4 linked regions of the Homo sapiens genome follow. The protein of the gene in region 3 interacts with the protein of the main gene of each other region in a biochemical or structural test. Each region holds a gene or a part of one and is shown on either strand. Other genes may lie near its edges.

Region 1 (7,410 bases), on a different chromosome or scaffold from region 3:
CCTCTTCCAGCAGCCAGTCCATCCTCCCTGCCCTCCTCCCCCGCTTCCCCGCGCCCCGCGGGCCCACCACCCCTCACCTCTGAGGGCCTCCGGGGCGGGTGAGCATAGCGCTGTCTCCTGCCAGGAGGCCGGACGCACCAGGTCAAAGCCTCCGTTGTTGTTTAGGGAGTCCTGGGGTGGAGATACATGACGGCGGTCCTGAGGAGGGCCAGCTCCCAGGGGGTGAGCAGGGCTGGCTGCAGCCCAGGTGCTATGAACCCAGGCTCAGCTCCAGGGAGCTGTGGGTCCGGGCACTCACCTGGGCCCCCAGTGTGGTCAGACGGAGGGTGGTGGGCCGGTGCTTGTGGGGCTCCTCCACGGAAGGGGAGGGGATAAGGGGCCCGGGGGCAGGTGCCTCTGAGCCAGGGTCTCCTCCCTCCTGGCCTTCCCCATCTCCCTCCTCCTCCTCCTCCTCCTCTTCCTCGTCCTCATCGTCCTCCTCTTCATTGTCATCGATCATCTCAAACTCCTGGAAGTCATCCTGGAAGGAGCAGATGGGGTGCGGCTGCTCCGAGCGCCCCAGGGAGAGGCTGTCCTGCAGGACGGAGGGAGATAGCAGGGCTGGGCCAGAGGGCAGCAGTAGCCCAGGGGCCCAGGTGCTAGGAGAAGGGAAATCGGGGAGCATCAGTCAAAGGAGAGCCCCTTCCAGCTCACTCTGCCCCTCTGTCTACAGGGCGATGTTTTCAAAATCTGCCTAACACACATTGGGATCACTCCAGTTCTTGGGAAGGGCCTAAACTCTACAGCTGAATGACAGGGATTCTCAGAGCAGCCCCAGCCCCACTTTCAGACTCATCTAACTGCAGAACCCCATCACATTTGACACCAGCACTGTGTTCCCTTCGCAGCGTTTTAACACAACTTACAGTTACTGGACATGGTTTTTGGTCTGTTGCAAGCCCCACCAGGGCAGGGTCATGTCCATGTTATGCACTGTTGCACCCGCCCCCAAGAACAAGACCTGGGGCTCAGCGGATGTTCAGTAAACATCAAACAGATGCAGAAATGGAGAGACAGCCTCTGCACTCTGAGGATTCACCAACTTTGCGCCAACCCCAGGGCCATTGGCACAGTTATTCCCCATGCTGGCACTTCCTCTCCTCCATTCCCTCCTACCTACCCCATCTGCCTGGCTCTGCTAACCTCAGGGCATGGTTGACATTTCCTCTGGAAATTCTCCCTGATTCCTTCAGTGTGGATTGGGTTCCCTTCCCCCTCGTGGAACTTATGTCCCTGTTGGAATGCAGCCCTTGACACGTGGGCAGCCATTGTCCCTTACAAGTCTTTCTCCCCTACTAAGTTGCAGCTCCAGAGAGCAGCTGTCCTGTTCCACTCCCAGCACCCAGAAGCCCCCAGTACTTGCCACATGGCAGTTGCTCAGAAATGTTCTTCAATAAATGAAAGCAGAAATGTGGAGAGACAGGGAGGAGGAGAAGCAAGAGATGGACGAGAAAAGATTTCAGCAGGGGGAGACATGAAACAGACAGATGGGAGCTGCAGACGAGGGCACAGGGCTGCAGAGGGGACAAGGTTGTGATGGCAGCTGCCAGGGATTAGATCTTTCTGGGAGTGATCTGAGGACAGAGGGCACCCAAAGCAAAGGAGCACCTCCCTGCCCCGGGCTGGCCACCGATGGGGTCGGGGAGAATGCTGGGGAAGGCCCTGCGTGGAGGCCTGCAATGTGTTGGAATAAGAGAGAGTTGATACCAAGGAAACCTCAAGGGTTAAGTGGGGAGGAGCCATCAGAGGAGTCCCCGGTTCAAGGCTGAGCTCACACCCACCCTAAAACCCCAAGTGAACGCTAAGAAGAACCTAATGAGGCCCTCCCTTGAGCTGGATCTGTGTCCCCAACTCTTCTCCCACCTTCTCACAGTGGTCTGAGTCGTAGCTGAGGCCCAGGCCACAGTCATCAGTGATCTCAGACAGATCTTCGTCGTCAAATTCTTCCAGGCTTATGTCCTGGGGAGGCCTGGAAAGGAGACCAGGGTCAGAGAGCCACCAACCCTGGACTCCCTGCCTGGCAACTGGCCCTGAGGAGGGGCAGAGGGAGGCGTCAGCTCCTACACCCAGTGGTTTCCACAGCCCCCAGCTCTCGGAACACATCCTGCCATCATCTTGACCCCCAAGCTCTGCTCGCCTGTGGATCCCCTCCCCCATCTGAGCCAGGCCTGCCCGGAGGAGCCAACCCTGCCCCCACCCCTCCCACCCCGCCTCCCTGGAGAGCCAGCAGCCTCTCCTCCCTCCACTCGCAGCTCCAGGCCCCTGGGGTCAGGGTCTTGCAGAGCAGGGGAGGGGGAGCTGCAACGCGGCAGCGGCAGATGGGGAGGGGTCGCTCCTGCTCTGGGAAGAGAGTCTGGCCTGTTTGTCTCCCCCTCTCCGGCGGAGTGAGGCCTAAACCCAGAGGCCCAGCGTCCTCCCAACCCCAGTCCCTTCCCGCAGGGCTCCGGGCTTGATTTCCACTCTCTCCCGGCCGGGCCCTATCGGCCAGGTCTGGCGTCCACTGAAAGAGGCCAAGGCCACCGGGACACGCCGCGCCGGGAGGGTGTGCCCGCATCCCGCCCGCATCCTCCCCCGCAGAGGGTCGGCCCAGGGCCTCCACCCTTGACAGGTCAGCCGTCCAGGCCGGGCGCGGCTCAGAATCCCGGCGGGGCCCGGGGGTCACTGAGGCTGGGGACGCGCGGTGAAGATGGAGGGAGTGGGAGCGGGGTGGGGGTGGGGCGCCCGAGCCGAGGCTCAGGGACCGCAGGGGGCCGGGGCCGGGTCCGCGCCGGCGGCGGGGCTGGGGCGGCGGGGACGGGGGTCCGGGCCGGGTCGGGGTCGGGGGGGTGCGCAGGGAGCGGAGGGTCCGCCCGGCCCGGGCGCCGAGGGGGGTACCTGCAGCCCGGCGGCGACAGCGAGTGGAAGGTGGAGAGAGAAAACATCTCCGCGCGATCCGCCATCTTCTCCGGGAGAGGCCCGCGACTGCGGCGGGGGGTGCGGGAGCCTCGCCGCGCCCCGCGCCGGCGCTCGGCCCGCCCCGCTCACCTCGTGACACGCCCTGCGGCGTCCGCCCCGCGCACCTCGCCCGGACTCCGCGGCGGCGCGGGGAGGGCGGCGGGGGAGGCGGGGGAGGGACGCGGCCGGGGACGCTGGTTGGAGGAGAGGCGGCGGCTTCACTGCCGGGCGCTGGTTGGGGAAGGGCCGGGCGTGCGATGAGGATTTTTCCCGGGGAGGGGCGGGAGGGAAGGGGCGGGCGGGTGGGCGTCGGGCCCCGCCCTGGAGGACCCGCGCGGGGCGGGAGGCCGAGGAGGCAGCGCCGGGGTCCGCGGGCCTCGGGTTCGCCGTGGGCTGTTTCCTCTGGGCGAGAGGCCGGGGCGGCCCCGGGAGCTGCGCCGCCGCGCCCAGGATCCCCCCAGGAACCCTAACCCGGGTGCGGCCCGGAGCGGGGTGGCGGGCGAGGCGGGAGGCGCGGGAGGAGCTGTCCGCCGTCGGGTGCTGATCGGAGCTGTCCCCACGGGGTGCTGACCGGGGCTGCACGGGGACGTCTGCACGAGGGTCGCCGAGCAGGGCTGGATTCAGAATCGAGCACAAGGTACTCAGAGGATGCTGGCTGGGGCTAAAAGTGGACTTTGAGCACTCAGTAGAGACTGCACAGCCGGACGGACGTACCGACGGGCACTGGGAGAAGTTAGCACCCACGGAGGCGACATGCGTCCCACTGGAAACACTTTTTCTTGGGCACCGTGTTGCTGGGCCCTGTGTAGGGAACTGACCCGCTCTGGCTTGGGATGGAGCCCTGTGGGGAGGGCCATGGTTGAAGCTGAGCTCGAGACGGTGGCTGTGGGAGGAGGCGGGAGATCAGGGTTGAGGGCGCAGAACTAGGGAGAGACTGCAGGACACTTTTTTTCTTTCTAAAATAGAGACCGGTGGCTGGGCGCGGTGGCTCACGCCTGCAATCCCACCACTTTGAGAGGCCAAGGCGGGTGGATCACGACGTCAAGAGATCGAGACCAGAGACCATCCTGGCCAACATGGTGAAACCCCGTCTTTACTAAAAATACAAAAAAATTAGCCGGGCGTGGTGGCGGGCGCCTGTAGTCCCGGCGACTTGGGAGGCTGAGCCAGGAGAATCATTTGAACCCGGGAAGCGGAGGTTGCAGTGAGACGAGATTGCGCCACTGCACTCCAGCCTGGCAAGAGCAAGACTCCGTCTCAAAAAAAAAAAAAGAGAGAGAGAGAGACCGGCTCTCTCTGTATTGCCCAGGTTGGTCTCAAACTCCTGGGCTCAGCTATCCTCTGGCCTCAGCCTCCCAAAGTGCTGGGATTACAGGTGTGAACCACAGCACCTGGCTAAATATTGGCTAAAGAAGGAGGCTGGCATTTCAACAAAAGCGCAATCCCTTTTCCCCCTTGATGAAAGTTATGTGCCCTAAGATTTCTTTATGTCTTAGTTCTGCGGAAAATTCTTTTTTTTTTTTTTTTTTTTTTTTTTTTTTTTTTTTTTGAGACAGAACTTGCTCTGTTGCCCAGGCTGGAGTGTAGTGGCACGATCTCAGCTCACTGTAACCTCCACCTCCCGGGTTCAACCGATTCTCGTGCCTCAGCCTCCCGAGTAGCTGGGATTACAGGCAATCACCACCATGTCCGGCTAATTTTTGTGTTTTTAGTAGAGATGGGTTTTTGCCATGTTGGCCAGGCTGGTCCCAAACTCCTGACCTCAGGTGATCTGCCCTCCTTGGCCTCCCAAAGTGCTGGGATTACAGGCGTGAGCCACCGCCCCTGGCCTGGAAAATTATTCCTTAGGAAAGGACAAGGCACTTGAGTGACAAACACCAGAAACGACATGGCAGAAGGAGCTCATGCAAGTCGGGAAGGGGGGTATCACCATTCCAGCTCAGAGAGAGGCCTGTGGCCAGGGCCTGATTGAACCTGCACTCTTTGGTGTCCCATCACAATTTATATTTTATGCCAATTACAGTATTTTTCTAAGAATGGCATTTACTTGGCTGGGCACAGTGACTTACACCTGTAATCCCAGTACTTTGGGAGGCCAAGGTGGGTGCGTCACTTGAGCTCAAGAGTTTGAAACCAGCCTGGAAACATGTCTCTACCAAAAATAAAAAAAATTGGCCGAGCCCAGGAGGCAAAGGTTGCAGTGAGCTGAGATCACACCACTGCATCCAACCTGGGGGGCAGAGTGAGATCCCATCTCAAAAAAAAAAAAAAAGCCATTTACTAGTTTATGCTTGCCTTCTTGACTTGGGTTGGCTGGAGAGAAGAGAGGCTGTCATCTCTCTGTGAAGCCCTAGGCTCCAAGCATGGTGCCTGGCAAACAGTAGGTGCTTAGCAGACATGTGAATGAATGAATGAGAGAGCTTATGGTCTCTAACCCAGTCTGGGGCATCAGGTCTTTGCCATAACAGTCTTTTCCCTTTTAGAAGCACTAAGAACATTCCCCATTTCTGAGGGAGTCTGGGCCTATTAACCACTCCCTGCCTTTCCCAAAAAATCCAGATCCCTTCCCAGATTTCACAGAGAGTTTGACCTCAACTTTCCAGATTGGCTTTTGATCCTGAGTCTTTTCACCAAACTGGTTCATCTGGACATCCACATAAATGACCCATCCAATACCCTGGTCAGTCAGTTCCTTGATTTCTGATCTGTCAACAGTCTTTAATACTCAAGTGTAGTGACCTCTCCCACAAAGTGCCTCCAGGATCTACCTTCATCTGGAATTGCAGCAAGCTTAAAATCTTTTTTTTTTTTTTTTTTTTTGAGACAGGGTCTCACTCTGTCACCCAGGCTGGAGTGCAGTGGTGTGTCCCTAGCTCACTGTAGCCTCAAACTCCTGGGCTCAAGGAATCCCCCTGCCTCAGCCTTCTGAGTAGCTAGGACCACAGGTGCACACTACCATACCTGGCATTTTGTTTGTTTTTGTAAAAACAGGGTCTCACTATGTTACCCAGGTTGGTCTTAAACTCCTGGGCCCAAGCCCAGGTGATGGCCTCCCAGAGTGCTGAGATGACAGGCATGAGCCACAGCATCCAATCTGAAGTCTTATAGTCTCAAATTTCATCTTAGATCCTAATCCCCAAAACCTTCCTCAAGCCTCTCCCCTTCCTTCCCTCCCTCTTAAAAGATGGTCACTCCCAGGTCCCATGAGCGTAAAGACCATGAGATGGGGGATACCGCCCGCAATTTTATCTGTGGACCTCCCATCTTGCCCCCAGAGCACAGATGGAAGATCGTCGGCCTTAAAGTCTGAAATACGGGAGCCACTCTTCATTTTGCACCAACTTGTTGAACGTGGGCAAATTACTCAGTTCCTCGAGATCTTGGTTTCTTCCTCTGAGCAATGGTGCTGCGAGGACCACATGTCGTGGTGTAAGCCCCAGACACAGGCCCTGTTGTTTGTTGGTGATCATTTAAGGCTCACCTTTCCCCTGCTCCTCACACCGGGGACATGTCCTCCCAGTCCCCCAGGGCTGCTCTGTGCAGCTCAGGGATACATTAGTGAAAAGGCAGCAACTCTTTCCTGAGGGGGTTTATGCTCCTTACATCATGCACATTTTATCAAATTTGCACCTTCCTTGTGTGCTCCTCAGAGCATCATTGTATGGATGAACAAATGGGGGTCCACAGGGAGCTGAACATCCCTCCTTGAAGTTCCTCCTCCAGCCTCTGGGCCACAGGCACTGGGTTTTCCTTCCTGACCACCACCCGTTGTCAGCGTCCTTCCAGACTCCTTCTCCTTCAATGACAAATCAAGATGTTGTGACGCGACCATTTTAACGCTTTCTTCCCTCTATGGTGCACGAATGGCATAGACATTACAAAGCACAAAATTGATTGGACTTAGAAGGGAGAGTTGGAATCGCAACAGCTTCCACAGTCCTGACCACAGCAATTCTAAAAAGTCAGAGAACATTTTCTGACAACTTTCTGAGAGATTAGAAAACAAATGCAAACTATCAGTATTTATTGTACTCATATTTCACAGAAATCACAAACACAAAATAAATATGCCAATGGTTAAAACTGCAAACAGACACATTTAATAAAGATGAAAATTAAGAGTTCTACCTTCACCATGGTGAAGTCCTAACGCCACCATTTCCCGAATCTTCATTTTTATGCAGCCAGGTCTCTGATCACTACCTCCTACTTTTCTTGGTCTCTTGCTGCATTACTACAATACCCACTTTTTTTTTTTTTTGAGACAGGGTCTTGCTCTGTCACCCAGGCAGGAATGTAGTGGTGCAATCTCAGCTCACTGTAACCTCTGCCTCCTAGGTTCAAGCAATTCTCCCACTTCATTCCTCAGAGTAGTTGGACTATAGATGTGTGCCACCACACCTGGCTAATGTTTTTATTTTTTGTAGAGACAGGGTT
Region 2 (7,843 bases), on a different chromosome or scaffold from region 3:
GAGTCCTTTTGGGGAGAACTGGGGGAGGTCAGGCCCAGGCCGGGCTGGCTGGTCAGTCCTGTGACTCGTGGGCCTGGAGAATTCCCCCTCCTCTCCCCGCCAGGCTTCCTCACAAGGCCCCCATTGTCCAGGAAAATCATGCCATTGTTTCCTGCCTGTGCCCCCCACCAGCCCAGGGACTCCCCCCACCCCAATCCTGCAGACAGCAACTTGGGCCTAGGACTGGGGTCTCCGAGGTTAAATGCCAGGCTCAGGGAGGCTGAGGGCACCTTGCCTGCCCTTTACCACCACCTCCCAGACTCTGAGAGGGAAGCAGGGGAACTAGAGGGGAGTAGGGGAGCAGTTCCAGGCTCCTTCCTCCCGCAAGTCCTCCACCCCAAGCTCTTTCCTCCCCTGCAGGCAGCTGGGCTAGGGAGGGAGCAGGGGCTGGAGCAGGGACAGGAAGCCGGCTCAGGGGCAGCAGGAAACGCAGGAAGCAGTGGGGAGGGTGGGGAGCAGGGGCCTGGGCTATTGTTCCATTTTTTCTGGAAAGAAAACGGAGGAAAAACAGAAGATGGGAGTCCCCTCCCCCTGTGCCTTCGGGGAATCCCCCTCAGATTGGGGCAGGTAGCGGGGGTCCCTAGATAGTTAGAGCCCAGGGTTGAGGCTGAGAGGTGGGAACCGCACCCTACCAGGGATGAGAAGAGTGGGTAGGATGGTTGGCAGGCCTCTCCTGGCTCCCCCAGTCCTGGCAAGAACTTGGATATCTGGGGCTCAGCACTCTGTTTCCTGCAAGCCCCTTGTCCATGGTCAGCCCAGGCCAGGAGGCTCAAAATATCCACGTTGACCCCCCTCTAAGAATGTCTCATGCTTTTCCAGTGACCACACTGAGCCTGGCCCCTCCTGCATTTCCTACTGCTGCTCTCCAGCCTGCACTCTGGGCTCTAGGAGGCCCCTGCTCCTGGTCCCTGCTGTGTGCTGGGTCCTGCTTCCATGCCTTCTCTCTCTAAATGCTGCGTGCACCAGGAAACCCTCTGAAGCTGTCACTCACTTCTCTTGGGCCATGATGGGCAGCGTGTCGGGGGCTTGAAATGATGGGAGATGGAGTCTCCCTTAGCCCAGCACTCCCATCCCAAGCACTGATTTCAGGCTAGGCCCTCTTGGCGATCCAGCCCTCAAATGTCCATCTCCATGGCTGAGGACCCGCTGTGGGTTGGGGATCGCAGGTCGGGCTTGCCCAAGCTGTTGAGCTGTTTCACTCTCCCTTTTTACAGATTCTGAAATTGAGGCTCCGAGTTGGAGTAACCAGCTAGAGGTCATGAAGCCAGGGAGGGCTAGGCCAGAATTCCAGCCCTGGCCTTAGCCTTGACTGCCAAGGAGGGCTTCCCTCTCTGAGATATCTGTTCTGGAGGAGCTGCCCATGACGACGGGAGGGGAGGACAGAGCACCAACTCCACGAACATGAATTTAGGGGAGGAGAAGATGAGGAGCACGAGCTTCCAGAGGACTTCCTTGAGGTGGGAGCCATGGCTGGGCAGGATGCTTATGGCCCACCTGAGAGATACCAATTTCTTAACTTGTCCAAACCGCAGCTGCAGGCTGGGGTCAAGGACTTCTGAAGCTGGCGCAGGAAGACTCTGCTGGGTGCCTGGGGCTCTGTTTGGGGGCTAGCTTGAGCCCATGGGCACCCCTGGTCAGCTGGGACCCCCTAGGGTGGGAGCTCCTACCTGCAGTAGACCCTAAGCTAGGCTCAGTGGAAGGTTGGGAGCAGGTGTGTACCAGAGCCATGCCACCCCCAACCATGCCCCCAGAAACTCACTGTTGTTGGACTTGAGATCACGGTGGATGACGGGCACCAGGGCCTCGCAGTGCAGGTAGTGCATCCCACGGGCAATCTGCACAGCCCAGTTGACCAGCACATGGGGAGGCACGCGCCGCCCGGCCAGAGCTCGGCTGAGGGGCCCACCGGCTGCATACTCCATCACCAGGCACAGGTTGGGCTCCTCCAGGCACACAGCCTTGAGGGCAATGATGTTGGGGTGTGCCAGCATGGCGAAGAGCCGGGCCTCCTGGCGAACGCTCTCGGCTGTCACACTGATGTCCTCATCGGGGTCCTGGCGAGCTGCCTTCACAGCCACCAGCTCACCTCGCCAGCTGCCCCTGTACACCTTGCCAAAGCCTCCAATGCCGATCACCTCCTCCAGCCGCAGCTCCTGGAAGCTGGCCACCTCGCAGGGGGGCGGGCCGCCACCCCGAGACACATAGTTGGACGGGAAGATGCCCACCTGGCCACCCACCTGGCCCGCCCACCAGCCCTCGTCTCCTGAGATGGCTGCGTCCCGGGACAGCACCTCCACACGGTCACCCTTCCTCAGGGCCAGCTCATCCTGCCCACTGGGCTCGTAGTCGAACAGGGCTGTCCACACCGGGTTGGCATAACCCGCTGCCTTTGGAGACCCCTCAGGCCGGCCTCCTCCACCGCCCCCACCACCCCCGCTGCCACTGCCATTCCATGACCCTAGAGGGCTCTTGAGGAAGAGGCTCTTCAAGGGCTCCATGGCCGGGAGCCGGCGCTGGGATGTGTGGAGGACCTTCTCTGGGTGCCCGTGGTCCCCACCCCCGCTGGCTGCCAAGGCCCTAGTCCCGGAACCTGGGCATCCGGGCCCTGGCCCTCAGCCCCAGACCCACGCCTCTCTGGGGAGCCAGGAGTGTTGTCTCCCGGCCCCCCGCATCTCGGGCTTCTGGAGGAGGGCACCCAGGGCAGTGTGGTCAGGCCGGGGGGGTGGGGCCCCGGGGCCTCCGGCGCCTCACCATGGCTAGCTTGGAGGGACCCGAGCTTCCCTCGGTTCTGGAGCAGTCCTGGGAGCCTGGCTCCGGCCCCCGCCAAGTGTAAGGTGGGGCCTTCAGGGGCAGCGCCTCAACTCCGGTTGGGTCTTTTTGCGCAGGGGGTGGAGGGAGCGTCCGCAGTTGGGCCGAGACTGCCTGTTCCTGGCCCCGTCTCCTTTGGCCCCGACGGCTCCGACCCCGCTCCCTTCTTCCTCCTCCCTTTGTACTTTGGCCCCGGGGGCGGGAGGCAGAGGTGGAGGGTGGAGTTTCACTTTTTTCCGCTCTTCTCCCTCCTGCAGGAAACAGCATCAGATGACGCGGGCGGCCTGCACCGCTCCCCTCCCAGAGGCTCCAGGCGGGGAGTTCCCGGGTAGGCGGGCCAGGAGAGGCAGAGAGGGAAAGGGCAGAACCAGATCCCCCATCACAGCAGGCTTTTGAGATCTAGAAAGAAAAGCCCCCAGCTGCGTGCTCTGCTGCCTAGGGTGGAGGTTGGTCTCTGCTAAGGATGGGCCATCTCTGCCCTCTGCATCCGCATCGGCGGCAGCAAAACGGGGTTACAGAACCACACTTGGGAAGGGGGTGAACCCGAGTCTGGTCTTGGCTGCGAAGTTGTGGGACTGTGCGATCCATCGATTCTGAGCCTCATTATTTTCTTTCTTTTTTCTTCTTTTGAGACGGAGTCTTGCTCTGTCGCCCAGGCTGGTATGCAATGGCGCAGTCTAAGCTCACTGCAACCTCCGCCTCCCGGGTTCAAGAGATTCTCCTGCCTCAGCCTCCCGAGTAGCTGGGACTACCGGCGCGTGGCACCACGGCCGGCTAATTTTTGTATTTTTAGTGGAGACGGGTTTCACCATGTTGGCCATGCTGGTCTCAAACCCCTGACCTCGTGATCCTCCCGCCTCGGCCTCCCAAAGTGTTGGGATTACAGGCGTGAGCCACCGCGCCCGGCCATTCTTTTCATATATGATATGAGGACGAGAAAGCTCTGCCTCGTAGAGCTAGTTGGATGGGGTGGGGAAGACTGGAGGACAGACGGAACTGGCTGCACCTCAAGCTCTTGGAGTGGATTGCCTAAGGCTCTCTTCTTCTCCTCACCTGGGAAACAATCCGCTTCTTCATATCCCTTCCCCATTGGCAGAAACCTGAGACTTGTCCAGAACTTTGCCCAGGATTGGATTCAGAATAGCTGAGTCGCCCTCACAACTTCTGGATAGGGCTGCCCCAATTGCTTTGAGCCTGTCACTTTAAGAAAGACGACGCTATCCTATTTCGACTATTCCTGCCTGTTACGGAAGGTTGTTCTCTACACCCTAGGTCTGAGCTCTGACCCGGAAGTAGACGCCGCTGGGAGCGAAATCGGTCGTGACGTACGAGGTCCAGCATTAAAGGGGGCGGGCCGAGAGGGGCGTGCTTCGGTAGTGCAGAACTCTCGCTGCTACTAGGGGAGTCCACGCCTCCACCTTTTCCCCGCCTCCTGTAACTCATTGGAAGAGCTGTGCGCCAATTACTTTGCCGTTACCCAATGGCTACTCAACTGTCTCTTTGGTTCCGCCCAGTCGTCTACCCTGGGTTGGCAACGCCTGGGTCTACGCATGCGCCCAAACGCTTTTACGCTCGAACTTGCTTTAGTCCTGGAGTCTGCGCACGCCCAAAGGGCACCCCTCGCGTCCTACCGCGCCATCACCTTTCTGCGCTTGCGCATTCATGCCGTCAAGTTTTCCTTTTCCGGGTCCCAATTGGAATCGTTGGGCGCATGCGCCACTGCAGGCTGGCGGTTCGCGGCTCCTTCTTCCGGCCTCCTCCTTAGGCCGGCACCAGCAGAAGCCGGGCGAGCGCGGAGCCCCAAGCAAGTGACCTGCGACCCCGAAAGTGGACCCCAGATCCTGGGGTTCTCCCTGGTCCGGAGACTAGGGAGCTGTCGCCTGCACCCCGGGAGCACCCACCCCACGACCACCTCTGGATGCCGCCGACGGGTACCCGGCCCGTGCCCCGCGCCTGCCTGCCGGCTCGGCCCCTCGGAGCAATTCTGGGCCAGGAGTGGGGACCCGGACCCCGCCCCTGATGCAGCCCCACCCCCGCGTCCGGGCCTTGCACCACTGACTGTCCCGGCCGGCCCCGCCCCCTGCTCGCACCCTCGCGCGGCCGAGCCCCCCTCCCCCGCTGGGGGAGGCCATGGCGTGAGCGTGAGGCCGGGCCCCGGGGCCCTCAGGCGCCAGACGGGGCATGGGCCGGGGGCCGCCCCCATGAGGGTCCCGGGAGGGGGGGCGCGGGCAGCAGCGGCGGGGCCATGGGGTCGCAGGTGTTGCAGATCCTGCGCCAGGGGGTGTGGGCCTCGCTCACCGGCGGTTGGTTCTTCGACCCGCACCAGAGCACCTTCTCCAACTGCTTCCACCTCTATGTCTGGATCTTCCTGCTCATCTTTCCCTTCTTACTGTACATGGTGAGACGCCACGGCCACCTGTAACTCCAGCCGGGAGAGGGAGGGCAGCCTGGCAGGGATTCAGGGCAGTGCCCTGGGCTCTGGGACGTGGAGAGAGAGGAATCACTGCAGAGTTTGGGTCTGTGTGGAAGAGGGGCCAAAGTCTTCCTTTCTTGGATCGAGTGACCTTGAACCCTACACTTAATCTCATCCAGCTAAGCAGAATACAGAGCCCTTTGTCGAGGTCTGTGTACTGGTTGTGTGGAGAGGTGATGAAATTTTCTTGTGAGTCTGTGAATCCCAGCTATGATGTTGATGGCAGGTACATCCTGTGGGGGCGAGGCTTTGTGAAAAGGGACCTGGCTTACTTTCATCTTCAGGTCCTGCCTCCCAGCTTGATGGTGGCCGGCGTGTACTGCCTCGTGGTGGCTGTCATCTTTGCTACTATCAAGACTGTCAATTATCGGCTTCATGCCATGTTTGACCAGGGCGAGATCGTGGAGAAGCGCAGCTCTACCATGGGGGAGCTGGAGGAAGAGCCTGCCCAGGGGGACAGCAATCCACCCAGGTGGGTGGGGTAGGGGCTGTGCTGGGGATTGAGGGTTTTTGGTGCCTGGGCCGGAACCTTGCAGGGTGGAGTAGGGGCTTAGGGAACATTGGCTCTCTGAGTGATTGTGAACACTTGTCCTGTGTTAGCCCTGGAATTGTAAAGTGACTTCTGAAAAAGAAGCAGTGACAAAGATGGGAGGAAGTAGCATACACAGAGGAGAGGTTAGCTCAAAGCTGCTGCTCTTTTTCACCGCCAGGGACCCCGGAGTGGAGATGACAGTGTTCCGGAAAGTCAGTTCCACACCCCCGGTGCGCTGCAGCTCCCAGCACTCTGTGTTTGGCTTCAACCAGGTCTCGGTGAGTGGGCCTGGACCTCAGCTTGTCCTCCTGTCCCTCTGCGAGCCAGTCCCTACTGTGGGTGCATCCTGAGCCTACTTCTTGCCTTGTTTGTTCCTTCATGGCTCTCTGTCTACTCAGGAGCTGCTGCCCCGAATGGAGGACTCTGGGCCCCTTAGAGGTAGGTGGCTGCTCTTCAGGGTTGGAGCATAGTGCTGTGGAACAGGGGCTGGCGTGCTGTGCCAGGGGGTCCTGCTGACACCTCTGGGGCCATGGTTGCAGACATCAAGGAGCTGGTGCGGGAGCAGGGCAGCAACAATGTGATCGTGACTTCTGCCGACCGAGAGATGCTGAAGCTCAGCTCGCAGGAGAAACTGAGTGCGTGGGCCTTATGGGGCCGAGGCTTGTGGGCTAGACCAGCTGTTTCGTTGTTGAATCCCCTCAACTTTGGCTCCATCCTGGGTCTCCTCTGTATTCCTCTGTGGGACCTCCCCAGTGTGCTGCTGTGGCTGGGCTCTCAGGGAAAGTACAGGGCATAAGACCTCCCTTAACCACTAGTTTGTTTTGCAGAAAACCCTTTTTTCATTTTCTGTTTCCCTTTATTTTGGCAGTTGGAGACCTTCCCCAGACGCCTCCAGGGGCTGTCCCAGACCCCTCTCTTGCCAGTACAGACTCTTCAGAGCCTTCTCCCCTGGCTGGAGATGGAGCGCCCTGGAGTGGGAGCAGCATGGCTGACACTCCCATGAGCCCCCTGCTGAAGGGGAGCCTCAGCCAGGAGCTGAGCAAGAGCTTCCTGACCCTGACCCAGCCTGACCGGGCCCTGGTGAGGACCAGCAGTCGACGGGAACAACGCAGGGGGGCAGGTGGCTATCAGCCCCTTGACCGGCGGGGCTCAGGGGAGCCCACGCCCCAGAAAGCCGGCTCCTCAGACTCCTGCTTCAGCGGCACTGACAGGGAGACATTGAGCAGCTTCAAGAGTGAGAAGACCAACTCCACCCATCTGGACAGCCCCCCAGGGGGGCCAGCCCCTGAGGGCAGCGACACAGACCCACCCTCTGAGGCTGAGCTGCCTGCCTCACCAGACGCCGGGGTCCCCTCAGATGACACGCTGCGTTCCTTTGACACGGTCATTGGAGCAGGGACGCCACCGGGCCTGGCTGAGCCGCTCCTGGTCGTGCGGCCCAAGGACTTGGCCCTGCTACGGCCTAGCAAACGGCAGCCACCCCTGCGAAGACACTCTCCACCTGGCCGTGCCCCTCGACGGCCCCTGCTTGAAGGTGGGGGCTTCTTTGAGGATGAAGACACTAGTGAGGGCAGTGAACTGAGCCCGGCCTCCAGTCTCCGATCGCAGCGCCGCTACAGTACTGACAGCTCCTCTTCTACTTCCTGCTACTCCCCTGAGAGCTCCCGGGGTGCAGCAGGGGGACCCCGGAAGCGGAGGGCCCCCCATGGGGCTGAGGAGGGAACTGCTGTGCCCCCCAAGCGGCCATATGGGACCCAGCGGACGCCTAGTACCGCCAGCGCTAAAACACATGCCCGTGTGCTGAGCATGGATGGGGCTGGGGGTGATGTTCTGAGGCCCCCACTGGCTGGCTGCAAGGCAGAGCTGGAGGCCCAGGTTGGGGTGGAGCAGGCTGCTAGTGAGCCTGTTGTGCTGCCTGCTGAGGCGCGAAGGGGACCCGCTGCCAACCAGCCCGGCTGGCGGGGGGAGCTGCAGGAGGAAGGTGCTGTGGG
Region 3 (6,963 bases):
TGTGCCACCATGCCCGGCTAATTTTGTATTTTTAGTGGAGACGGGGTTTCTCTATGTTGGTCAGGGTGGTCTCGAACTCCCGACCTCAGGTGAGCCACCCGCCTCGGTCTCCCAAAGTGCTGGAATTACAGGTGTGAGTCACTGTGCCTGGCCTAATCTCTAGTATTTTTAATGCAGACAGGGTTTCACCATGTTGGCCAGGCTGGTCTCGAACTCCTGACCTCAAGTGATCCACCCTCCTTGGCCTCCCAAAGTACTGAAATTACAGGCATGAGCCACTGCGCCTGGCCCAGTTTTTAAATTTTTGAGACAGGATCTCGCTGTCACCCAGGCTGGGGTGCAGTGGTGTGATCATGGCTCCCTGTAGCCTCAACCTCCCCGAGTGTTGGGATCACAGGTGTGAGCCACCGTGCCTGGCCTCCCCAGAGGCTTTGTTCAATTCCCACCGTCTCCAGAGGTTCCCCCAGGCTGGCCCCCTGCAGGGCCGCTCACCCAGCTAGAATGTTCTCTCTGGTGGGAATGTGCTCCTTGTCCAGTGGGCCCCCCTATTGCAGCCCCCCGCTACAGAGGAGAGGGGCTCCATCTGTTCTATTCACTGCTGTGTCCCTGGCGCCCAGGGCTGGTATGGAACCCGGGGGGTGCTATGTGTTCACCTAGTTGTTGAGAGAGATCCATAGGCACAGGCCACCCACCCACCAGGCCCAACTTTCTCGTTCTCTCAGTTACACACACACAGGCGTGCACCCCCCCCACCCCCGGAGGCCACAGACTCCCATTCAGTGGGGGAGCCCACCTCCTCCTCCAGGGAGTCCAAAGTGGAGCTGGGAGTAAGGGAGGGGGAGGAGGAGGGAGGACGCAGAGGAGGCTGGGCTGGGCTGACCGCTGCTTGAGTGGAGTGAGAGAGAAAGTGAGAGTGAGGGGAAGGGACATGGGGACACACACAGAGCATGGGGGCTGGGGGACGCCATTCTGCGGCCGGGGCAGCGGTTAGGTCAATGGTGCAGATGTCCAAGCAGCGATGATAAAAAGGCTGGTACCTGCTCGTTGGGACGGGGCAGGAGCAGGGCTTAGAGTGATCACAATAACTGGATGGGGAAAAGGAAGAAAAAAACAACACCACGATAAATCACAACAGAAACGACTGATTCGTCCAAAAGAAAAGAAATCAAATCATAAACGAGGAGGAGGGGGAGGCACCGAACTGCAGAGATGGCTAGGAACCGACAGAGATGGGGAGGGCGGGGAGGATGGGATGGAGTTGACACAGACAGAGACGCCTGGAGGGGACTCCTCGGGGGCCTGCCTGCCACCGGCCTCCTAGCTCTGCATGGGAACGGCCACCCCTGAAGGCACCCGGGATCCTGGACTCAACCCTGTCTCATCCACTCAGGGGCCAGGGAGGGCGGCCCCCAGGGGCTAGCAGGGACCCGTGTCTTGGCTGGGCTTCTTGTCTCAGGCAGTGTCCTGCACCAGAATCCCCACCTCCATGATTTCTCTGGACCCCCAAGAGACTCCCCAAGGAGGAACCCACGCTGACTCAGGTCAGGAGAGGGAGGGACAGGAGGGTGTCAGGCTGTGAAGGTCAGGCTGGGTGACCAGGGAATGGGTGGGGTGCCCAGATACGGGGGTACCTTTCTCGCCTGCCATAATGACTCCATAGAGAGAACTAAATAAACTACGAAGGTCACATCAGAGGAGACAAGAGAGAATTTTACTGGGTCAAGAAAGACACAAAAAGGATCATGGGTCAGGGGTGGTGTTCACAGGGTTTGAAAATCTAATTTCCTCCAGCCCAGAGGATTTAGAGACCAGGATCTTGGGGAAAAAGCCGGGAGACTAGATATGGTCAGTGTTCCCAGGCCAGGTGTGTGTGAAGCGAGAGGTACTGATCTAGGATGACAAGGTGTCAGGGAGGTAGGTACCGAGGTGGTGGGACTGATCAGAAAGCAGGTGGATGTATGCTGGGGCGCGGCGGGAGCAGGCCTAGAGTCACACTGGCCCCAGGTGTCCCCAGGTCAGGTGGGTGTGGGTGTGAAGGGAAGGGGAGCCATCACTTGAACACAGGTGACAAAGTCACCGGGCTGGCTGGGGGTCGATGTGCATTTCTGGAGGTCAGACACCACACGCTCACCAAGATGGTGGCAGTGAAACTGGTCACAGGGATTTGCGGGGCCTGGTGTATGTGGGAGGGGGTCTGCTGAGCCCAATGCCATGGTCACTGTCGCCAAGAGGGGGAGAAGGGACCCCCTCCCGTCCCCCCACCTCAGACACGGTCACAGGGAGAGCGAGAGGGAGAATCCTCGGGTCAGAAGAGATGGGGAGGGGCTCTATGTGGTCAAGTAACCTCAGGTGTCCCCGAGCCAGGCGTGCGCGTGTGCGTAGATCGTCGCTGCACGGGGCTGACAAGCCCCCAGGCCGGGGGAGGGGGGCGCCAGACAGTCCCTGAGATGACGAGAGTGGTAGCATCAGGTCAACAGGGACGTGTCTGTGTTTTCGGGGCGACCTGGATGTGGTCACTGTCGCGTGGAGTCGGGGAAGCCCGACCCAGAGGATCACGGCGATGGGGGCGGGTCATCAGCTGGGGGCCTCGCCTGGGTCCGGGAACTGGGCTCCCAAGCCCTGAGGGTGCGAACCCCCCGGAGCTCGCCGGCTCCACGCCCCCCGGGTCACCGTGACCCTCGCCCCGCGAGCCCGCAGCGGGGGGGGCGGAGAGGAGAGCGAGCGCCCCGGAAGCGGGGGCGGGGCCTTGTGGTGGGGGCGGGGCCTCCCGCGGCGCGCGCCCCGCCCCGCCCGCCCGCCCCCTCCCCCACGCCGCCGTGCTTACTGGGCCTGGGCCGCTGGGGGCTGATATCCAGGTTGAGGTCGATCCTCCGCCGGGCCTCCCGGTTCTCCTGCTTCAGCTTTGCTTCCAGGCGGGACAGCTTCTGTTCCAGGGAGGACGCCGCCATCTTCCCCGCCGCCACCGCCGCCGCGCACCGCCCGGCCGCCCGTCAGTCCGGCAGACAAACACCGCACTGCGCCTGCGCCCGGATGACCCCGTCGAGCCGCCGTCTCGCCCCGCACCGCGCATGCCCGCGGCGCGCACCCGCCCTTCTCCGCGTGCGAACCTCCGCGCGTGCGTGCTTCGGCTCAGCCCGAAGGATGACGCCACCTAGAGCTCGAGGCAGGCAACGTGCAACCCCCGCCTTCGTCGCCACCACCACCGTAGTGCGCATGCGCCAATTCCCGATCGCTCCTGAGAGAGGCGCTGCGAGGAAACACCATTCTTCTGAGGACGGTGGGCGGGGAAAACGGCGCGCATGCTTAGCGAGGCGAAGCCGTGTTCGCCCGCGTGGCTTTTGCGCATGCGCATTCCTGGAACCTCGTTCCCAAAGCGGCAGTCGATCCCTGGTCTCCACGGCGGTGCAGCCTCAGCCTCCTCGCTTTTCACGGTCGGCTTGGGCGTCCCTTCGGAATGCCTTCCTCACTGATGGTGCTTTATTAGGATTCCTCTTGTGCTTAATTACCTCCTAGCCTCCTGCTGGCAGCGGGGTGCCGCCTCCTCACCGTAATTAGGCTCCGTCGAGAGCCCTTTCCCTTCTTGCCAGCCCCAGCAGGCTCAGAGTTGGCCGAAGCCAGGGGGGAGGGGACGGCCATGGGAACCCAGCGGTGTGACCCCTGCCCTCGGCGACGGGGCCAAGGTCAAGGCCAGAGTTGTTGGCCAGACCCACATAGAACCTCAAGACACCCCCCTTATCTCTCTCGCACCCGGAACGTGAGCCCAGCGCCTGGACGTGGAGAATTCCTATCTGAGGAGGGGCGCTGGGGTTAGGTGCCAGTGCTTGGGCCCCCGGCAGCCTAAACCACTCCTTTAAGTGGTCCGACGGGTGCTGGGGAAATGTCCCATCTGGAACCCAGGGATCCCCCCAAGAGCGGCTTCCCTCTGCTCTTAGATGCGAGAAGGAAGTTCTGATTTTGCGGACACCCGGGAGGTGGCCAGGGCCAGGCAGACTCTGCCAAGTGCCCTTCCAGCTTCTGGTCCAACGAGGGAACACTTTGGGATGAGAGTTACCGGCTTGTCGGAACTCCTCTGGTGACGATTTGTGGGTGGAGCACACACAAGTGTAGAGTTATAGCTGAGGTCTTTACCTTTCCGTCTTCCAGGCAGCCTTCTGTGCCTCTGCTCTGAGAACATGAGACTCATCCTTGATTCTGGCACACGGGTGTTACTTGGTCACATGAAATAAAAGGTTACGGGCATGGTGGTTCACGCCTGTAATCCCAGCACTTTGGGAGGCCGAGGCGGATGGATCACGAAGTCAGGAGAGGACCAGCCTGGCCAAGATGGTGAAACCCCGTGTCTACTAGAAATACGAAAATTAGCCGGGCATGGTGGCAGGCGCCTGTAATTCCAGCTACTTGGGAGGCTGAGGCAGAGAATTGCTTGAACCCAGGAGGCGGAGGTTGCAGTGAGCCAAGATTGCGCCACTGCACTCCAGCCTGGGTGACAGAGCCAGACTCCGTCTCAAAAAAAAAAAAAAGAAAGAAAAACAGGGTCTTGTTCTGTTGCTCAGGCTGGAGTGGAGTGGTGTGATCACAGCTCACTGCAGCCTCAACCTCCTGGGTCCTGGGCTCAAGCAATCCTCCTGCCTCTGCTTGCCTAGTAGCTGGGACCTCAGGCACACATCAGCACACCTGGCCAACTTTTTTTTGTATGTTTTTGTAGAGATGAGATCTCACTATGTTGCCCAGTTTGGTCTCAAGCTCTTGAGCTCAAGCGATCCTCCCACCTGAGCCTCCCAAAGCGCTGGGATTACAAGCATGAGCCACTATGTCTGGCCCTAATGGACGGTGTTAGACAATGACAGGAGTGCACATAAGAGATCAAAACTAGAACTTGCATAATTAGTATTATTTATTAAGCACCCAGAGAACAGTCAAGACCAAAGTCCCTGCTTGTCCTTGGAAAAATGTCACCTCTATAGCAGGTGTCCTAACCCTGCAGTCCACCCACCTTAGGAAGTCCTTGAATAGCTCTCTGGGGGAAATCTATCAGCTGCCTGAAGAGCTTTGTGTGTATTTGTACACCAGCATTTTCCTGAGGAAGGAGGTGCCTGGCTTCATCAGTTTCTCAAAGGGTCTAGGACCTCAAAAGGGATCAGAATCTAGATATTTGGATACCCTATTTTTTTTTTTTTTGGCAGAGGTGGGGTCTCGCTATGTTACCCAGGCTGATCTCGAACTCCTGAGCTCAACCATCCTCCTGCATTGGCCTCTCAAACAGCTGGGATTATAGTCATGAGCCACAGCGCCCGGCCCTGATACCTTTACGTCAGCATTTCCCAACATACTGTCTCAGGGCCACTTACCTGCACCAGAACTACCTGGAATATTTAGGAACAGACTCCTGGCCCCCAACCAAACCTCCTGAGTCAGTGTTTCAGGGGAGGGGACTGGGATATTTTGTTTTGCACCGACTCCCTAGGTGATTTTGATGCTTAGCCAAATGAGAACCATTGTTCGGAGCTAACATATAACACAGCAAACAACTGTGTCTGTGTCCTCTCCTTGGGAGAGAACTCCAGAAGTAAGTTGCTTTGTTGCATGGGGAGGGGGAGTGTTGGAAATCCCACTGGGATGTGTCGTTTCCCCCATATGTGGCACTAATTGAGCTGGAATATCCAGGGAGAGGCAGCAGTTCTAGGGATGGGAGCAAGGCCAGCCAGCCTGCCAGAGACACAGGTGTGGTTTTGGTCGGAGAATGCCATGACTGAGTTAATCCCTCCATACCAGGTTCCACCCCAGCTCCACAACATCCTGTCTGTCTCCCCAGACAAACCAGCCCAGATCCTCCTGGGCCCCAGAAAGATGACACAGCTGCCCCCGCCCCCCCCATCTCCTGGCCTGGACCCACTTGGCTTCCTATCTTGGAAGACAATGGTTGAGATTCCAGGGCAGAAGCATTTTTAAGGCTCTACCTAAAACGGCCCCACCCCAGCTTCATTCCTCCTCCATCTTGTCCCGCACTTCTGCCGGCAGACCCTGGTAAAGCGTGTCTTCCACCAGGAGCCCCGCCTTCTTGAGCCCCCCACAGTTGCCAAGTTCTTCTGGCAGCGCCTCTAAGCGGTTGCCTTTGAGCTCCAGGCGGCTGAGGGCTCTGAGGGCACCCACGTGGGGCGAGAGCTGGCTCAGCTGGTTGTCGCCCAGAAGCAACGTCCGCAGCTTGCGGCAGAAGAAGAGCTCTTCGGGCAGGGCCTCCAGGGCATTGTAGGAGAGGGCCAGGTGCTGTAGGTTCTGCAGGAGGCCCACCTCGGGTGGCAGGGAGTGTAGCCCATTGTGGGACACATCCAGCAGACGGAGGCCTGAGCACAGGCCGAGCTGGGAGGGCAGGGTCTCCAGCTTGTTGTAGCTGAGGTAGAGCTGCTCCAGGCTCCTGAGCTTCCGCACGTGCTCAGGGACGTAGGCGATCTGGTTGTGCCACAGCCTGAGCGTGACCAGCTTCCGGCAGTGCTGGAAGCTGAGGATTTCCTCGATGGAGCGCAGGTGGTTGTCCTTGAGGTCAAGTTCCTGCAGCGCACCCAGGCTGAACACTGCATGGGGGATGCGCTCCAGCCCGCAGGCCACCAGCTCCAGCTCCCGCAATGCCGCCAGCTTCTTGAGGCTGTTCAGGGCAACCAGACGGGCCCCATCGTTGTGCAGGCTGAGCCTCTGCAGGTGGCCAGCAACGTCGGTCACACTGGCTGGCACCTTCCCGGCGTTGCTCCGGAGGGACAACACCTTGAGCTGCTTCAGCTCCCGGAGGCTCTCCAGGGTGGCTGCCCGAGCTAGCTCCTGGGGGAAAAGCCCCTCCAGGTGCAGCTCCTCCAAGCCCCGCAGCCCAAACACCCAAAGCGGCACCTCGCGGAGCTCCTCGCATTTGACGCGCATCACCTTCAGGTGGTCCCGCAGGAAGACCTGCAAGGAGAAGGGTAGCCTGGCGGGCGA
Region 4 (7,466 bases), 5.4 Mb from region 3:
GAGAAGGCTGTGGTGGGCTGGGGGGGCACTCCCTGGGGAAGCCTCCAAAAGCGCTCTTCCTTGCAAGCCCTGAGCTCACCTCGCTGTGTGGTACCAGGTGCCCCCTTGACCGATCCGGACCTTGGGCTGCGGTGGCCGCCTAGGCGGTCAGGGGCTGCAGCCAGCACCCCCTCCCGCTGAAATGCCTCCATATGTGCCCAGAGCTTGGGGTTGGCTCCTGCACAGCCAGTAACAGTGGTGGCACGGCGGCCAGGTTTCGTAATAAACCGGTCTCTTAATTGCTGCAGGGTAGGAGGAGAAGGAAAAAAAAAAAGAGGCATAGATTTGTTGGAGTCGGTGGCGGCGCCTGCTGCGGAGAGAAGGGGTACTGTTTCTGCACGGGAGCCTGGAGCTGCTAACAGGGGCTTAAGTAACACTTCCTGGTGAGCTGGCGGGGGTTGTGGGGGGTGAAGCGTGTCCCCGGGGAGGGGGCAGGGGTCCTAGTTGTTCTAGAAGCCGAAAACATACAAGCAACCAGAGGCTTTAGAAATTTATTACAAGGCCCTCATAGTAGAAATAAAAATATAGATATCTATGCTTCCCATCTCGCTCTCAGTGGTTCGAATAACAAGTGCAAGTAACAAAATAGATTGTCTCTATAATTCGCAAACTGGGAGTTCATGGGTACAGAGCAACTTCAGCCCCAGCTCCCAAGTCCCAAAGTGTGGTCTTGTCGAGGGTGCAGACAAGGACCAACCAAGTTCAACCAAGTCTCTCGTATGCAGACGCCAGCTCCAGTCTCAAGGAGGGTGGGGCTTGCAGTCAGTCTCACTCCACCCCCGAGTGGACAGTCTGGACCCTCCGTGATGGGGAAGGCGGCAGCGTGCCCCGCCACTCCGGCTTCTGCTCCATCCCAAGGCCTCAGCTTCGGGGGTCCTGTCTCCTGCTGGCCTGGGTCCCCCCTTCTCCATCGGATCGGCGGCCGCCAGCTCCTGGATCTCCGCCCTGGGGGCGGCCGCTCACTCCCCTTCTCCTCCTCCTCTTCCTCTTCAGTCTCCAACGACTCTGCCCCCGATGGTCCTCGTGGGTTGGGTTGTTTTGGGGGGGTTGTGCTGGGGGGGAGGGGGTTCAAATATTTATTGTATTTTTTGTTTGTGGCAGCAACTCAACAGATTCTGCTGCTGGGAAGGGCCTCAGCGTTCCTGAAGAGAGATGTAGGGGACCCACTGGTTGTTGCCCCGGCTTTCTTCGCAGTAGCTGGCCACCTCCACCAAGCCGTGGCTCTTCCAGGCGTCCGTGTGAGGGTTCTGTAGGAGGGAAAAGAAGGGGTTTAGTGGAGCCTCCCTCTCCCGGGGCCCCTGTGTGGGGAAAACAGTCAGGCTCAAAATAGCTTCCTGGGTGAGGAGGCCCCAGCCCGGCTGCCCACGGGACATGCCAAACGTGGCTGAGCGCTGAGCTGTGCAGGACCAGTCAGCCCGACTTTGTTGACAAACACCGGCCCAGGTGCCCGGGCGTGGCGGGGCAGGGCAGAGGCCCGACTCACCGTGACCAGGAGACAATGCAGGTCTCGGGCCTCGGTGGTGCCCTGGGTCTCGGCCGGCTCTCCCAGGAGCTGCGCCAGGCGCTGCATGCCCGACACCCGCACGATGTTGATGTCGTTGTCACAGCAGAAGGACTGGATGAGCGTGAAGTGGATTTGCAGGGCGATGTCATCCTCCTCCTCCTCGTCAATGGCCAAGAGGCAGAGGACCACGCTGTCTGGGTCCCTGAGGGGGCCAAAGGGTAGGGATGGGTCAGCCGGGGACAGGGGAGGGGCCACCGTGCAGGGGGAGTTTGCAAAAAAGGAGCGTGCAAGAGCAAAAGAGAAACTGCAAGGGTGCAGGGGATTGCCTCTGCAAGCTGGTGACGGTGGGGGGAGGGGAGGGCACACGGTTCAAAGTATGGGGTAGGGGGAGACAGGCCCACGGCGGGAGGGGTGTTTGCAGACGATACATCAGGATACGGCAGCCCCCGATCCACAAAACGGCAGAGAAGCTCTGCATCCACAGCGGGGGGCACTTGGGGAAGTCCCAGCTCCATGCAAGACAAGCGTGCGGAAAGCGTCCAGAGCGGAGGGGAGGTCCCGTCCCACCCGCGCCCAGCCCGGGAAGGGGGTCTGACTCACACATTCATCAACTTGGCCGACTCGTACACCCCCACTGTGAGGCGATCCTGGCGCTGAGCGGCCACCAAAAGCTCCTCCACCGCGGCGGTCACCGTCTGCATCCTGAGACCAGGAAAGAGGGATCAGTGACGGGCGGACCACCGGGTGCTACGTTCCGCTCCCGGCCCGGCCCAACCCGACCCATCCCGTCCCGGCTGACCTCAGGCGGCGGCAGCCCCGGCTACTTACTTCTGCGCCGCGTTGTCGCACGCCACGAGCTCTTCCAGCGTCATGTTGCAATTATAATCCACAGTGGATGCGGCTCCACGGCAGTCCCCAGGGAGAAATTGCAAAATCCGAGCCAGAGAGCCCAAAACCTTCCCACAGAGCTAGAGCGCTCGTCCAAGACCTTCGGGAAGCAGCGAAATCCTTCCAGAAAAGGCGGAAAAATATATTGCAAAGTCCTTGGCGAGGATAATCCAGGAAGTTGCGGAAACCAACGGTAGTCCGACGCTTCGGCGATCTGAGCTGGGAGCCTCCGGCACCGACTTTTATAGACTTGAACATTGGGCGTGGCCTCAGTGGAGTCATTCGCCCCTCCTATTGGTGGAAAGACAAGGGCGAGTGCAGCTAGCTCTGCGGTTGGCCGACGGAGGGGAGGGGGAGGAGCGGCGTGCGGGGGCGCCCCACGTGGGGGCGAGAACCGGGAGGAGGGCGCGCGGGGGCCGGGTAGGTGACCGCGAATGCCAGAAAAGAAAAAAAAGCAGAAGTTTTTTTCTCCTGATTTCCCGGCAGCCGAGCCGCGGTTCGGGGCGCGCGCGGGATTTCCAGCGCGCGAGGCGGCCCGGACTTTCGGGGGGGCCTGGAATCCCCTCCCGATCCGCGGAGAGTCCCGGACCGCGCCTTTCCCAAGTTCTGCTGGGGGTGGAGGGGCTGCACCGGGAAGGGGCCCCGTTTGCAGCGTGATCTCGCCCAGGTGGTGGTGAGGGCCGGAGTCTCTCCTGGCTGCGACGACCCCAGCCCCTGGGTGATTTCGCTTCTCCCGGCCTCTCTGTTCCCGTCTGAGTAATGGGTCTGCAGCGCCGGCCTCGCTGGTTTGCAGAGCATGGCATAAAATACGGCTGACAGTAAGAGCCCAATACACATCAGCTGTCACCTGGTGGTCGCGGGAGGCCTCCTCGAGGGCCCCGAAAGTGGGAGGTTGCAAAGCCCGGGGCGCTCTGGAGAAGAAAGTGGGCGCCTCCTCGCCGACCCCGCGAGTATCAGGGTGGGGTGCGCGTGGGAGGTGCAGGTGGCGCGGCCCCGCCCCCGCCGGCTGCCTGGCGTTCCAGCCTTTGCCCGTGCGGAGGCCTCCAGGCCCTGGAGAAAGCCATTGTTGAGGGGAATGGTGCAGGCTCCGGCTGCACGCCGCCACCCAGGGCCCACGTGCAAGGATGACGGCTACTTTTATTTCTCACTCCGGGGTGGGCGCTGACCTGCATTGAGTGCGTGGTGCGGACCTGGTACCCCCCACCCCTCCGGATTCATGGATGATTTAATCCAAGACCTGGGAAGCAGGGGGGATGCTTATGTGCATTATGCAAAAGGGGAAACTGAGGCTTGGTGAGGCCATAGGCTAGTTCGTGTTGGAGCCACGCGTGTGCGCCAGGCACGGCCGCCTGCAGGACTCCGCCGCCCCGGGAAGGCTGTTCAGGAGCGAGGCTGGCAGGCCCCGCATGACAACGTCTCCCACGGTCGACTGGGGGCTCCCGGGTGACTCACATCTGAGTCCCCTCCCCCGCCAGCCTGGGGTCTGGCCTCCGCCCGGCGGCTCACTTTCCCCAGTTGCCCGGCTCCCCGGCCCGCGGGTCCGGCTGACGCATCCCACCTCCTCCGCGCCGCCCACCGCTGGGGCACGAAATGTCCCGGGGCTGCGAGGCGCGGTGGCGCCATCTGGTGGCCGCGCCGAGTTTCTGCGCCCTCAGCGCCGGAAGAGAGGGACGGACGGGCGGGGCACTGGGCTGGAGGCGGGGGATAAGGGGACCGTGGCGGTTGCAACGTTTTATGTAACTTTATGCAATGTTTTACGCATGCAACATACATATTTATATTTTATAATTTCAATTTAAAAGTTAAATCGGCCGGGCGCGGTGGCTTACGCCTGTAATCCCAGCACTTTGGGAGTCCGAGGCGGGCGGATCAACTGAGGTCAGGAGTTCGAGACCAACCTGACCAACATGGCCAACATGAGCTGAAGATAAGGAAGATCAGGGAGGTGGGTGGGATAAGTGCAAAGTCAGATTCTGTCTTTATTTACAATTTTGATATTTTGTTCCTCATGGATACTTGGGCATTGATTTTGATTTTTAAAAAGTATTGCAGGCTGGGTAATCCCAGCACATTAGGAGGCTGAGGCGGGCAGATCGTGAGGTCAGTTCGAGACCAGCCTGACCAACATGGTGAAACCCTGTCTCTACTAAAAACACAAAAATTAGCTGGGCGTGGTGGCACGCGCCTGTAATCCCAGCTTACTCAGGAGGCTGAGGCAGGAGTATCACTTGAACCCAGGAGGTGGAGGTTGCAGTGAGCCGAGATCATGCCACTGCACATGGCATGGTGACAGAGAGAGACTCCATCCTCCCCAAAACAAACAAACAAACAAACAAACAAACAAAAAGGCCGGGCACGGTAGCTCACTCCTGTAATCCCAGCACTTGGGGAGTCTGAGGCAGGAGGATCACCTGAGGCTGGGAATTCAAGACCAGCCTGACCAACCTGGAGAAACCCCATCTCTACTAAAAATACAAAATCAGTCGGGCGTGGTGGCACATGCCTGTAATCCCAGCTACTCTGGGGGCTGAGGCAGGAGAATTGCTTGAACTTGGGAGGCAGAGGTTGCAGTAAGCCGAGATTGCAGTGAGCCGAGATCGTGCCACTGCACTCCAGCCTGAGTGACAGAGTGAGACTCAGTCTTTAAAAAAAAAAAAAAGAAAGAAAGAATGGGGTGTGTTGTGTGCACCCAGCTACTCCGGAGGCTGAGACAGGAGGATCACTTGAGCCCAGGGGTTCCTGGCTGCAGTGAGCCGGGATTGCACAGTTGCATTCCAGCCTGGGCAACAGAGTGAGACCCCGTCTCAAATAAATAAATAAAATAAGGGCTGGGCACGGTGGCTCATGCCTGTAATCCCAGCACTTTGGGAGGCTGAGGCAGGTGGATCATCTGGGGTCAGGAGTTCAAAACCAACCTGGCCAACATGGTGAAACCCCGTCTCTACAAAAAATACAAAAATTACCTGGGCATGGTGGCACATGCCTATAATCCCAGCTACTCGGGAGGCTGAGGCAGGAGAATCGCTTGAACCCGGGAGGTGGAGGTTGCAGTGAGCCGAGATTGCACCACTGCATTCCAGCCTGGGAGACAGAGCGAGACACTGTGTCAAAAATAAAGCAAATAAAATAAATAAAATAAGGCGAGCAAAGCAGGGCCTCAGAGAATATGTGTCCAAGTCCTTCTTCCGTGTGTCCCCCGTGCCAGCCATAACAACCTCCTCTGCGAGAGGCCCAGCCTTTGTCAGCTGTTTCCTCCGCCTGGGATGCTGTCTTCCTCTGGTCTTCAGCAGGAAAACCCTACTCCTCTGTCAACACTGACTTGGCCTTGTTTTCTCCCAGACTGACTGCCTGGACCCCCATGGTCCTCCACCCTCCAGGCTTCTCTTTCTAGACCCCAAGCCCACCTGTGCCTCCTTTTTCCAGCCCTGGCTCCAGGCATCTTAGAATATCTGGAGTATCTTGGAATATCTTCAAGAGACTCTGAGCTCTGTGCCTTTGAGCTCAGAAAATGAGCTCCAGCCGGGCCAGGCGTGGTGGCTCATGCCTGTAATCCCAGCATGTTGGGAGGCCGAGGCGGGTGGATCACCCGAGGTCAGGAGTTCAAGACCAGCCTGGCCAGCATGGTGAAACTCCATCTCTACTAAAAATATAAAAATTAGCCAGGCATGGTGGCGCATGCCTGTAGTCCCAGCTACTCAGGAGGCTGAGGCAGGAGAATCGCTTGAACTCGGGAGGTGGAGGTTGCAATGAGCCGAGATCGTGCCACTGCACTCCAGCCTGGACAACAAGAGTGAGACTCTTTCTCAAAAAAAAAAAAAAAAAGAAAATGAGCTCCAGCCTCAGTTTCTTTCTCTGTAAGATGGGAACAGTCACACAAAGGCTTCATCACAGGCATTGAAGGAGGAAATTCCCAGAATCAGGTAAGCACTCAGGAAATGTGTGCTATTATCTTTGGGCTGGGCGCCAGAACTCACCTCTGTAATCCCAGCACTTTTGGAGGCCGAGGCAGGAGGATTGCTTGAGCCCAGGAGTTTGAGACCAGCCTGGGCAACATAGGGAGACCCCATCTCTACAAAAATTTTAAAAATTAGCCGACCGTGGTGGTGCGCACCTGTAGTCCCAGCTACGTGAGAGGCTGAGGTGGGAGGATCACTTGAGCCTGGGAGTTTGAGGCTGCAGTGAGCTATGATTGTGTCGCTGCACTCCAGCCTGGGCAACAGAGGGAGACCCTGTGTCTAAAAATAAAATAAAATAAAAAATGAGATCAATAACAGTGTCGCCGAGGCCATCTTGGAGCCTGAGGTGAGAGGAATAATCAGTATGAGTAATCCTGTCATAATCTTTTTTTTTTTTTTTTTTTTTAGACAGAATCTCGCTCTGTCACCCAGACTGGAGTGCAGTGGCGCAATCTCAGCTCACTGCAACCTCCACCTCCTGGGTTCAAGTGACTCTCCTGCCTCAGCTTCTCAAGTAGCTAGGACTACAGGCGCCCTCCACCACACCTAGCTAATTTTTTGTATTTTTAGTAGAGACAGGGTTTTGCCATGTTGGCCAGGCTGATCTCGAACTCCTGACCTCAAATGATCTGCCTGCCTCGGCCTCCCAAAGTGTTGGAATTACAGGCGTGAGTCACCGTATTTGGCTTTAAACAAAATAAATTTTTAAAATTTTATCCAGCATAGAGGTTTTTGCATTCATTCAGAGTTAAAAAAAAAATGTGGCCGGGTGTGGTGGCTCACGCCTGTAATCCCAGCACTTTGGGAGGCTGAGGTGGGCAGATCACGAGGTCAGGAGATCGAGACCATCCCAGCTAACACAGTGAAACCCTGTCTCTACTAAAAATACAAAAAATTAGCCGGGCGTGGTGGCGGGCGCCTGTAGTGCCAGCTACTCAGGAGGCTGAGGCAGGAGAATGGTGTGAACCCAGGAGGTGGAGCTTGCAGTGAACCGAGATCGCGCTACTGCACTCCAGCCTGGGTGACAGAGCAAGACTCCATCTCAAAAAAATAAGTAAATAAAAATAAAAAATAAAAAA

Evidence for each region.
Region 1: the proteins of MAP2K7 (region 3) and MAPK8IP2 form a complex in vitro, tested with the Homo sapiens proteins (2 studies listed by BioGRID).
Region 2: of the proteins of MAP2K7 (region 3) and MAP3K11, one has a biochemical effect on the other in vitro, tested with the Homo sapiens proteins (2 studies listed by BioGRID).
Region 4: the proteins of MAP2K7 (region 3) and GADD45B form a complex in vitro, tested with the Homo sapiens proteins (2 studies listed by BioGRID and IntAct).

What each region holds. Positions count from the first base shown.
Region 1 is NC_000022.11:50,596,387-50,603,796, reverse strand, and holds the start of MAPK8IP2 (C-Jun-amino-terminal kinase-interacting protein 2), read right to left. Parts: upstream 3,005-7,410; 5' UTR 2,979-3,004; coding exon 2,914-2,978; intron 2,009-2,913; coding exon 1,903-2,008; intron 575-1,902; coding exon 299-574; intron 172-298; coding exon 78-171; intron 1-77. UniProt on the Homo sapiens protein: The JNK-interacting protein (JIP) group of scaffold proteins selectively mediates JNK signaling by aggregating specific components of the MAPK cascade to form a functional JNK signaling module.
Region 2 is NC_000011.10:65,611,220-65,619,062, forward strand, and holds the start of MAP3K11 (mitogen-activated protein kinase kinase kinase 11), read right to left. Parts: upstream 3,003-7,843; 5' UTR 2,538-3,002; coding exon 1,799-2,537; intron 1-1,798. Other genes in the region: PCNX3 (pecanex-like protein 3), read left to right, coding at 5,093-5,245, 5,605-5,792, 6,031-6,130, 6,251-6,290, 6,392-6,487, 6,721-7,843. UniProt on the Homo sapiens protein: Activates the JUN N-terminal pathway. Required for serum-stimulated cell proliferation and for mitogen and cytokine activation of MAPK14 (p38), MAPK3 (ERK) and MAPK8 (JNK1) through phosphorylation and activation of MAP2K4/MKK4 and MAP2K7/MKK7.
Region 3 is NC_000019.10:7,899,930-7,906,892, reverse strand, and holds the start of MAP2K7 (dual specificity mitogen-activated protein kinase kinase 7), read right to left. Parts: upstream 3,017-6,963; 5' UTR 2,949-3,016; coding exon 2,825-2,948; intron 1,086-2,824; coding exon of another isoform or gene 1,038-1,085; intron 1-1,037. Other genes in the region: volume-regulated anion channel subunit LRRC8E, read right to left, coding at 5,980-6,963. UniProt on the Homo sapiens protein: Dual specificity protein kinase which acts as an essential component of the MAP kinase signal transduction pathway. Essential component of the stress-activated protein kinase/c-Jun N-terminal kinase (SAP/JNK) signaling pathway.
Region 4 is NC_000019.10:2,471,308-2,478,773, reverse strand, and holds GADD45B (growth arrest and DNA damage-inducible protein GADD45 beta), read right to left. Parts: upstream 2,648-7,466; 5' UTR 2,416-2,647; coding exon 2,372-2,415; intron 2,246-2,371; coding exon 2,144-2,245; intron 1,746-2,143; coding exon 1,523-1,745; intron 1,287-1,522; coding exon 1,173-1,286; 3' UTR 517-1,172; downstream 1-516.